Homo sapiens: one gene and its partners. The protein of the gene in region 3 interacts with the protein of the main gene of each other region in a biochemical or structural test. Each region holds a gene or a part of one and is shown on either strand. Other genes may lie near its edges.

Evidence for each region.
Region 1: of the proteins of BCAN (region 3) and MMP8, one has a biochemical effect on the other in vitro, tested with the Homo sapiens proteins (one study listed by BioGRID).
Region 2: of the proteins of BCAN (region 3) and MMP1, one has a biochemical effect on the other in vitro, tested with the Homo sapiens proteins (one study listed by BioGRID).

The regions. Positions count from the first base shown.
Region 1 is NC_000011.10:102,718,383-102,722,117, reverse strand, and holds part of MMP8 (neutrophil collagenase isoform 1 preproprotein), read left to right. Parts: intron 1-355; coding exon 356-504; intron 505-591; coding exon 592-717; intron 718-3,542; coding exon 3,543-3,704; intron 3,705-3,735. UniProt on the Homo sapiens protein: Can degrade fibrillar type I, II, and III collagens.
Region 2 is NC_000011.10:102,789,337-102,792,442, reverse strand, and holds the end of MMP1 (interstitial collagenase isoform 1 preproprotein), read left to right. Parts: intron 1-947; coding exon 948-1,110; intron 1,111-1,636; coding exon 1,637-1,740; intron 1,741-1,921; coding exon 1,922-2,031; 3' UTR 2,032-2,524; downstream 2,525-3,106. UniProt on the Homo sapiens protein: Cleaves collagens of types I, II, and III at one site in the helical domain. Also cleaves collagens of types VII and X.
Region 3 is NC_000001.11:156,648,617-156,652,116, reverse strand, and holds part of BCAN (brevican core protein isoform 1 precursor), read right to left. Parts: coding exon 3,256-3,500; intron 662-3,255; coding exon 428-661; intron 1-427. UniProt on the Homo sapiens protein: May play a role in the terminally differentiating and the adult nervous system during postnatal development. Could stabilize interactions between hyaluronan (HA) and brain proteoglycans.

The DNA of each region.
Region 1 (3,735 bases), on a different chromosome or scaffold from region 3:
CCTCCTTTCATACATCTTAATAATAATAATAATATCTAATATTTGTGGAATATTATTACTATTTGACAAGTAATGAACTAAATGCTTTATATGTATTTAATCCCCACGGCAGCCCTATGAGAGGGATACTATATTAGTATCCTCATTTTATGAATAGGAAACTGAGGTTTAAAGACATGTATTAACTTGTTCAGAACCCACATCTGTCCTCCACCCTGAGACCTGCACTCCCTCCTTATCCTCTCCAGTGGTAGCACACCATGATGCAACTCACTTCAAAACAGAACAACTCATCAGTTGATGGACTACTGTTCTAAATAACATTTAACTCTTCATACATCCTCTCATTTTGAAGGATTCGAAACTATACCCCACAGCTGTCAGAGGCTGAGGTAGAAAGAGCTATCAAGGATGCCTTTGAACTCTGGAGTGTTGCATCACCTCTCATCTTCACCAGGATCTCACAGGGAGAGGCAGATATCAACATTGCTTTTTACCAAAGAGGTAGGTACAAAGCAGTCATGCTCAGTTTTGCTTTCTTTGGCTAACCTGAAACTTGGCAAGGATCTAATACAAATGTTCTTATTTCAGATCACGGTGACAATTCTCCATTTGATGGACCCAATGGAATCCTTGCTCATGCCTTTCAGCCAGGCCAAGGTATTGGAGGAGATGCTCATTTTGATGCCGAAGAAACATGGACCAACACCTCCGCAAGTAAGTTAATCAAGATTATGTCCACACACAGCTTCTGAATTAACCTTTTACAGATTAGAATACACACACACACACACACACAATAAAGGTAACATAATATTTCAAACTCACAAAAAGTGATCATTTGAAATTTTTGCTACCTCATGATACTAAGTCAATTTGGGATTTTTTTAAAAAAAGAAAGAAAAAGACATGCTGAATCTGATTACTGACCTTACTTCTTAGGTCAGAGATCAGAAAATACAGACTACGGCCAAATCCTGCCTGACCCCTGTCTGTATAAATAAAGTTTTATTGAAACAGGGCCACATTTATTTGTTTCTATATCATAAATGGCTGCTTTCACTCTACAATGGCAAGCTGAGTAATTGCAACATGGATCATTTGGCTTACAAAGCCTAAAATATTTGCTATCTGGTTCTTTACAGATACTGCTTTAGAATATCTTTATTTTAATATTCCCAAATTTAGTGATGTTTGAAAAGAGCCTATTTTTCCATTTTTGGAAATTCATTTAGAAATTATAATTTCTATAATTAGAAATTAGCCTATTTTTCCATTTTTTGGAAATTCATTTAGAAATTATAATTTCTATAATTAGAAATTAGTCTATTGAGAAAAGAACAGACACCTTCCCTCTCATCTAGTTAGTTCATCTCCTTGGAGCTCTTCTTCAGTGGTATGCTTCTGTACAGCAAGCCACTCCTTTCAGGAGAAGGCTCCTATTAAGAAGGACTGGGCTGCTTGAAGGGAAGAAATGAGGCTGAGGACAGGTATACCCAGACCATGTGGTACTTCACAAAATATGGGGTAACAATATGCCAGAGAGCACTTTTAGAAAATAATCAGAAAGGCACCTTTTACCTTTGCTTGGCACCTGTTCCTCCTGCCATTTTCTCAACATGGGTATGTTACGAGGGTCTATTCTACCTAAGTCCATATGCTAGGAGCTGTGTGTAGCCAAAGATAGGTAATAACCCTCAGCTCCTCTCCATTCCCTGTTGCCCTCCTCACTAGTTCGGATGATCATTACCTCTTACCTGAACGAATGATCTAGATTCCTAACTGGACTCTCCATCTCCAGTATGTGCTCCCTCTAATTTTTCCTACCATTGCAGCAGGGTTTGTTTTTGGAAGCCCATCTTGGATCACATCACTCTCATGCTTAAAAGTTTCAATGTTTACACATTCTGCACCAAATAAGGTCCAAATACTTCCACTTGGTATTGAAGGCTCTTGGTGCTTGTTCATCCTTGTCTTTCTTGGCTTGTCTTCTTATTTCACGTATTCCATTCACATCGGGCTAACACCCACATTGTACATTCACTGTTTCTAGGTCACACCCTATGCTTTTCATCTTCCTCACATTTGCTTGAATTGCTTCCTCTCCCTGAAATACTCTTCCCATGCCCCACGCACCACCTTTTAAAATCTCTCTCATCTTGCCATGCTATGTATGTCAAAGGCCACCTTCTGTCTTGCCTTGTCCTGGAAATGAGAACTTCCTCTGCAGAATTCTGACAGCTTTTGTATCTCCTTCTCTGTCATCACTCACTGTGTGCTTTCAAGTTGTTTGCACACATCTCTCCTCTTCTAGACTATGCACTCCCTGTAGAGCAGAGAACCACAACAAATTGCCCACAGTTCCTTTCACGGTATTCCAAGCATTCAAAGATATTTTTCTGAAATGCACTCATGAATGCATAATTAAAAGGATGTGATGATAAGAAACAATTCTTAGAGCATGGGTAGAATTTTAGCAGGCTAATTATCAACAGGAAGTTGAACATTGCAGTAAGAGCATGGATCTTGCCATTATACCTGGGTTTGACCCCAATCTGTCACTTACTAGTTGAGGGACCAAGTACCAGCTATTCAAAATCTATGGGCATCAGTCACTTTACTATAAAAATATTGTTAATAAAACTTCAGAAAAATGTTATGAGGATTGCATAACATTAGATTGCCTAGTATGTTGTAGGTACTCTACAATTATGGCTTTTTTTAAAAGTAGGCATATACAAAAATGCATCAGTGTGTTTGTGAGGCAGCATGTAGACTGGCTGGACTGAAGGATTCATGTTAAAAGGCAAGCACTCAAATATCTGCTGGAGCCAAGTGGAGGAGGTCTTGAAGGCCAGGCAAAAGAGGTTGGGCTTTATTTGATAGGAAGTGAGATCCTGGGAAGGTTTTAAGTCTCCAGTTGTGAACGGCACTATGCTCATGGAAGTTAAAACATGGAGAAAGAGAGCAATAAGGGTAGGATTTGTCTCTCTCCAGTAGAGAATTCCTAGAGCATCTTAGAAAGCTCAGAAACAGAGAAGAGCTGGTGCTAAGCTGTGGGTGATGAGGGAGCCAACATGAGCCAGCCCTCCATCTGAGGCTGCTCCACTGCTGGGCTGGCTTCTCTTCTAACTACTTGCTCACAGGGACTCTACTCGTGAGGCTGAGTGTCTGGGACAGTGGAGATGGTGATTGTGGGAATGCAAGAGAAGAGGGGTTCCCAAAGTCATGACGGCTCTGCCATTACTTCTCCAAGTCTCAGATGCACATTTGTAAAATGTGAGAATTGGAATAAATGCAGCTTTTCTGGGTTCTAAGAGTTTATAAGAAGTTCATACTCACCTAGTCGCCATCTATGACCACTATCTTGATTCTTCTCAATGTCCACTTTCTCAGGTATCTGAAAGAAAGATGAAAAAGACAGCCATGGGAAGGGCTATTTCCCTGAGCAGTTTTGACTTGGAGGTTGCATTCCTTGAGATCATGTTTCTGCCACCCTGGGATCCACACTGAGCTGTTTACCACCCGTGTTTGCATTTCAGATTACAACTTGTTTCTTGTTGCTGCTCATGAATTTGGCCATTCTTTGGGGCTCGCTCACTCCTCTGACCCTGGTGCCTTGATGTATCCCAACTATGCTTTCAGGGAAACCAGCAACTACTCACTCCCTCAAGATGACATCGATGGCATTCAGGCCATCTATGGTAAGGTCTTCTCAAGAGAGTCATAGTACAT
Region 2 (3,106 bases), on a different chromosome or scaffold from region 3:
TAGCGCATTTTGGAGTCATTTTAAACAAAAGGCAAATGACTGGAGATAGAACGTTCTGGCCTTTTTAATGAATCTAGATTTACAAAAATATTTTCTGCACAAACTATGTATTTAAAACCCCCTCCATATTCCTGGGAGTACTCAAAGTAAAACTCGAGACACTATGCCACGCACCAATATTTTTGCAAACGTGTGTTTAACGTAGTACAATGAGTAAGACATTTGACTCAGCCATACACTCAAGGCAAAGAATTAAATGCAGGTCAGATGGGCCAAACGCTTTGAAACAGGATTTTTAGCCTTTAAATTATGAAATTAAATGGATGTTAGAGACAGAAAGTTTCAAATTCCTTTTTCATGAGGGGTAAATAGCACGTGTGTACAGTAACAGAAATCTTGGCTTTAGTATATGAGACCAGCTTTATGTGATGAGGGGCTTACTGAGTATAAACACGGAATCTGGACACAGCATTAATTCAAGTATTTGGAACTATCTTCTAGTCAAATGCAGTGATTTGAATCCAGGATTGCAAACCCTTACAGGTTATGAGTCACTACAGCACTTCACCCTTTATGATACAAATGGTTTGAACTTCCACAGTCCATGAGCAAACCTGGAGAACCGAAGTTTATATCACCAAGGTGGCATAACTAACTCTTTAGTCATTTGAACATCTGACTGTGGAAAGAAGCCCCCAACTCCATAAACAAGTCATTCTCAAAGCTTGCTGCAGATTAGAATCAACTAAGAAGCTTCCAAAGATAGACACATTTAATTGGTCTGGGATAGGGTCCTGGCATCAGTATTTTCAAAAATCTCCCTAGATGATTCTAATCTGCAGCCAGGGTACTGCACTAGCATGTGAAACTAAGAACTTAGCTGAAAATTCACTTACTGCCTATTGAAGTCTTAGGCAAGTGTTTTATCACTCTTTCTTGATTGGCAGGGAATAAGTACTGGGCTGTTCAGGGACAGAATGTGCTACACGGATACCCCAAGGACATCTACAGCTCCTTTGGCTTCCCTAGAACTGTGAAGCATATCGATGCTGCTCTTTCTGAGGAAAACACTGGAAAAACCTACTTCTTTGTTGCTAACAAATACTGGAGGTAAGTTTAAGTGCAGAGAATGTTAGGGCCTCAGTTCTTTCTACATAAAAAGTTCTAGAATAGCCCATTTCAAAGTGAGTCTCAAACTGCCTTGGCCGGCATCCTTTCCTTCAGATGGCTGGTGCCAATCTATCATCTATTTAGTCTATTGACCAATAATCATCACACAATGCCTGCACTGGGAATCCAGAGAATGTAGGGGGATGAATTTTAAAAGGATGTAGAATTGAGGACATTCATCTTAACGGAGCTACTTTGGCCAAAAGTTACTTATCTTCCATAGTATGTTACCTCGATAGGACATAGCGTAGAACCTACTGGAGAATTCGATGCTGGATTTCAGAGGGGCCTTAAAGGCCTTTTAGTTCACCCAACATTCCACCTTATCCCATCCACTCCCCATTTCACAAATGATCTATAAAATGAAATATTCTGGTTAAATTCCTCATTGTGTATTTTCTGTAATGATTTTCAGAGTGCACATGTTTAGCAAAAGGTCTGACACTCTTAACTCTTTTCTGACCAGGTATGATGAATATAAACGATCTATGGATCCAGGTTATCCCAAAATGATAGCACATGACTTTCCTGGAATTGGCCACAAAGTTGATGCAGTTTTCATGAAAGATGGTAAGTGAATATACATGTATTTCCTCCATTTCATTGCCGTAGCAATAACATCATTATTGTTAGTTGGAACAGCAAATGCCAAAAATATCTGTGCTCACAGATGAATTGGTTTCTCAAGAATTCAAGTTAAACCTAGAAACTACTTGTATAATGTAGTAAGTCTCTTTTGTTTTGTTTCTAGGATTTTTCTATTTCTTTCATGGAACAAGACAATACAAATTTGATCCTAAAACGAAGAGAATTTTGACTCTCCAGAAAGCTAATAGCTGGTTCAACTGCAGGAAAAATTGAACATTACTAATTTGAATGGAAAACACATGGTGTGAGTCCAAAGAAGGTGTTTTCCTGAAGAACTGTCTATTTTCTCAGTCATTTTTAACCTCTAGAGTCACTGATACACAGAATATAATCTTATTTATACCTCAGTTTGCATATTTTTTTACTATTTAGAATGTAGCCCTTTTTGTACTGATATAATTTAGTTCCACAAATGGTGGGTACAAAAAGTCAAGTTTGTGGCTTATGGATTCATATAGGCCAGAGTTGCAAAGATCTTTTCCAGAGTATGCAACTCTGACGTTGATCCCAGAGAGCAGCTTCAGTGACAAACATATCCTTTCAAGACAGAAAGAGACAGGAGACATGAGTCTTTGCCGGAGGAAAAGCAGCTCAAGAACACATGTGCAGTCACTGGTGTCACCCTGGATAGGCAAGGGATAACTCTTCTAACACAAAATAAGTGTTTTATGTTTGGAATAAAGTCAACCTTGTTTCTACTGTTTTATACACTTTCTATATTTATTATTGTTACTTTCTGATGACAACGCCACCCTTACAGAGACTGCTTTTCAAATTTGAAATGGGAAGTAGACAATATAAAAAATGTTCATGTGGGAAATGAGGATATACAAAAAACTCAACTATTCTCTATTCACATGGAATTTATACCATATAAACTGGGGTGGGGGAGGGGAATCCATTTCCCTTGCCCCATTTATGGATTCCAAAAGTGGTTTTAGGTAAAATCAGTGACATCATGGTAGAGCGTTCTAGGTGTATGTCATTTTGTCTCTTCTGAACATATGGGAGGGTTCCATTTTCCCACAGTCCAACTCCTTGCAGAGTTGGGTGGTGGGCAGTGGGGCATCTGACTACTTCTAGCCAGAGGGTTGAGTGAAGAAGTGACAAATATCATTTTCAGACTGGAACATTTAATTGCTGGTGGAAATTTCTCTAGTAGTCTACTCCTTCTGTCCTGTGGTAGAAGTACATCATGAGAGAGTTGCCACAAGACAGAACAAGCTGAATTGCTGGAGGTAAATGCTCCAAATAGTTACACAAACCTCAGTAGACTTTGCTTAAGCAG
Region 3 (3,500 bases):
CAGGTGGTCCTTGCGCCACACTGGAAGAACTTGACCCCAGCCATATTGTTGAGGCAACACTTGAGAAGGCTCTGTGAGCCATCATTAGCCCCGGAGAACATGGTCATTTGTCTCCCTCCTACTCTGTCAAAACTCTAGTCTGTTTTGGGTGTGTGAGGCGGAAGAGGGACCAAAGAAGGCAGGTTCCACCTTTCCAGGGCGCAGCTCCTTAGTGCAAGCATCTCTAGCTCCATAGAGTTGGGGGTGGAATTTACTGGAAAAGCAAAGGTTGGGAGAGGGACAGGAAAGGTGCCCTGCACCCCTGAGCTACTGAGAAAGGACAGGGCAGAGTCATGTCATCCATCACCCTAGCATCAACCTGGGCTTGCCTCTTCTGCCCCCAACTTCTTTCAATCAAGACATCCTTAGGATAAGGGATCCGACTTACCTAGGAGCGTCCTAGGGGCCTCTGCTGGGTCTTCTGGAGTGGAGCTTCCACCTCCTCCGTCCTCCATGATGGGGATGGAGTAGATGGCCCCACGGGATTCACTCTCTGTGGCTTCCTGAGGCAGCTGCAGTTCCTCCAGGGTCTCTGTCACTGTGACGATAGCCTCTAGTCCATCAGAGGCTGGGTTGGAGGCTGGGTTGGAGGCCTCAGGGATGGCAGAAGGCTGGGCCGAGTCTGTGGCAGGAGGAAAGTATTGATGCGAGCCTGAATAGGTAGCTCTGCCCTCCCAGGTCACAGCTTGCACCATGGAATTCTCTCAATTCTCTCACATCTTCCCTGTGGAGCACCTACTGGGGCCCAGGGAGCATCCCAGAACTTCGTCACTCATTTCTCAAGCATTCATCAAGTGCCTACAGTGTGTCATGCCAAGCATTCCCCTGGGCACTGAGGATACAGTGCAGAACAAAATAGCAAACCTCCTACCCTCAAGGGAAATTATATTCTAGAACAGATGACAAACAAACATATATTATAATCTTACAAGATAAAGAACACTTGAGCAGAGTTAGAAGATGGAGTGATGGAAAATACTACTTTGGAGTGGTCAGGAAAGGCTCAGGTGAGAGATATTCCCTAGGGGGAGGGGCTGGAGCCAGCAGGATGGATGAAATAGCTTTACCACCTTGTGATCTTGGGCTTGGGGCAAGGTGTGAGGTGTCCCAGGTATCCCCAAATTCTTTTATTTTTTAGACAGAGTCTCCTTCTGTCACCCAGGCTGGAGTGCAGTGGCACGATCCCAGCTCATTGCAACCTTCGCCTCCTGGATTCAAGCGGTTCTCCCGTCTCAGCCTCCCAAGTAGCTGGGACTACAGGCATGTGCCACCGTAACTGGCTAATTTTTGTATTTTTAGTAGAGACAGGGTTTCCCCGTGTTTGCCAGGCTGATCTCGAACTCCTGGCCTCAAGTGGTCTTGGCCTCCCAAAGTGCTGGGATTACAGGCATGAGCCACTGCACCGAGCCTCCAAAATTCTTGAAATAGAAGGGGAGAGGCTGTCATCCCCTCAGGATAGCTGGAGGGCAGAGTGCAGGAATAACTTCAGGCATCACCTGAGGATCTCAGTGGTGGGGCAAGTAGGCAAGGGAAAAGGCCACCTCCTTCTGGGACCTACTCCTTTCAAATAACCAGAAGTTTAGAATGGTTTACTTGTCCTCTGGGGAAGGGAGCCAAGAGCAGAAAACCAATGAAGTGAAGGTGGAATTGGGCTAAGAAAAGTCCTGAGGGCTGTCTGTGCTCAGCCAGGCAAGACAGGACAGTGAGTCCCTGCCCTCATCACCTGCTCCAGTGAGCCTTACTCCTCACCAGACCTTGTGTCCTTGCTGCCTGTGTCCTCCACCAATCGTAGTCCCAACTGTAGTCATATTCCCCCTCCCCTGCCCCTCCTCATGATCCAGGCCATTTCTTTCCAAAACAGTGCTTGGCTTGGCACACAATCATAGCCAGCACACAGAAGTTTTAGCTATTACTATTATTATTATTACTACTACTACTACTACTACTACTACCCCTGTTCCAGGAGGTCTTTTCAGATGGACCTGTCTTCCTATGGACTTTTACTTCCCCACCCCTCCCCAACCCCAGCCAAATATGTCCACAGATCTGTCCAAATGGAAGTAATGCTTTTCTCTCAGTCTCTCCTCATCCTGGGAGTGAGGCATCTTGTCTTCCCTTTGCTGGGGGTTCCCATGGCAAAAGCTGTGTCTTCATCCTTCAGACCAAGTGCTCCCTGAGGTTCAAGGCTGTGTCTGCTCCTTCCATTTCTGCTTCCAGCTCTTGTAACAGTATTTCAGGCTTAAAACTGGGGAAGGACCGAGACACCGCATGGCAATGCCTCTCTTATTGTCGGTCACCCTTGGCCTGGGCCTTTTGCATCTGAGAGTCCCAGAAACTGCCTCCCGCTCCAGCTCCCAACATAAGATATGGGCAGGTTTGGGTGCAGTGGCTCACACCTATAAATCCCAGCACTTCGGGAGTCCAAGATAGGTAGATTGCTTGAGCTCAGGAGTTCAAGACCAGCCTGGGCATGTGGTGAAACCCCATCTCTACAAAAATTACAAAAATTTGCTAGACATGGTGGCATAAGCCTGTGGTCCCACCTACTCCGGAGGTTGAAGTGGAAGGATCCCCTGAGCCCAGGGAGGTTGAGGCTACAATGAACCATGATCACACCACTGCACTCCAGCCTGGGGGACGGAGTGAGACCCTGTCTCAAAAAAAGAAACAAGCCATAAGATGTGGGCAGAAAGCTATCTCTATTCCCAACTGTACTTAAGGTCTTGCTCCCTTTTGGGGGAATTGTATCCATCCACCAGTATTTGGTAGTTAAAGATCTGACACCTTCTTAAGCTGTAGTTTCTGGAAATCCTCCAGAGGGCTCCTGAGGGCATTTGGTTGTTGACTGGAAGAACTTGGGCAGATTACTCATTGAATTCACAGAATGTTGGTCGTCTTTGCTCTGCCAATAAGCTGACAGGAGATGGGAGCTTATTCAGCAGCCCAGCTGGAGCAAACAAGGCATGGACTACTGGTGGGAAGGCAGATAAGGAGAGGCCAAAAGGTGACTACTCCTTGGGCCAAACAGCTGACAGACACCACACCAGAGGGCATGCCCAGAATTAGAACCCTAGATGACAAGCTGGACTTCACCCACGACCACTTCAGGCAAATGGCAAAGCCCTGAGCTAAACTGATCAGACTGGGGTAGGACTTTTAGGACTCAACTCTGCCTTTCTGAGATTGGTCTCAGCTTCTGCAGGGAGGTGGGCTCACCTCGGAAGCAGTAGACGTTGAAGCGGCTGTGCTTATTGGGGAAGCCAGTCTGGTTGGGGAAGAGGAAGAGAGTCTTGACACCAGGCAAGCCCCCACCACAGCGCTGGCTGGGTGTGACGATGGGGTAGCGCACACTGCCATCAGCTAGCCACCCTGGGCTGCAGTGGTCCAGGCCACCATCCCAGGCTGCATACAGTTGGCCCGTGGTGGCAATCTCTGCACCCCGCTCCTGGCAGTACGCCCGT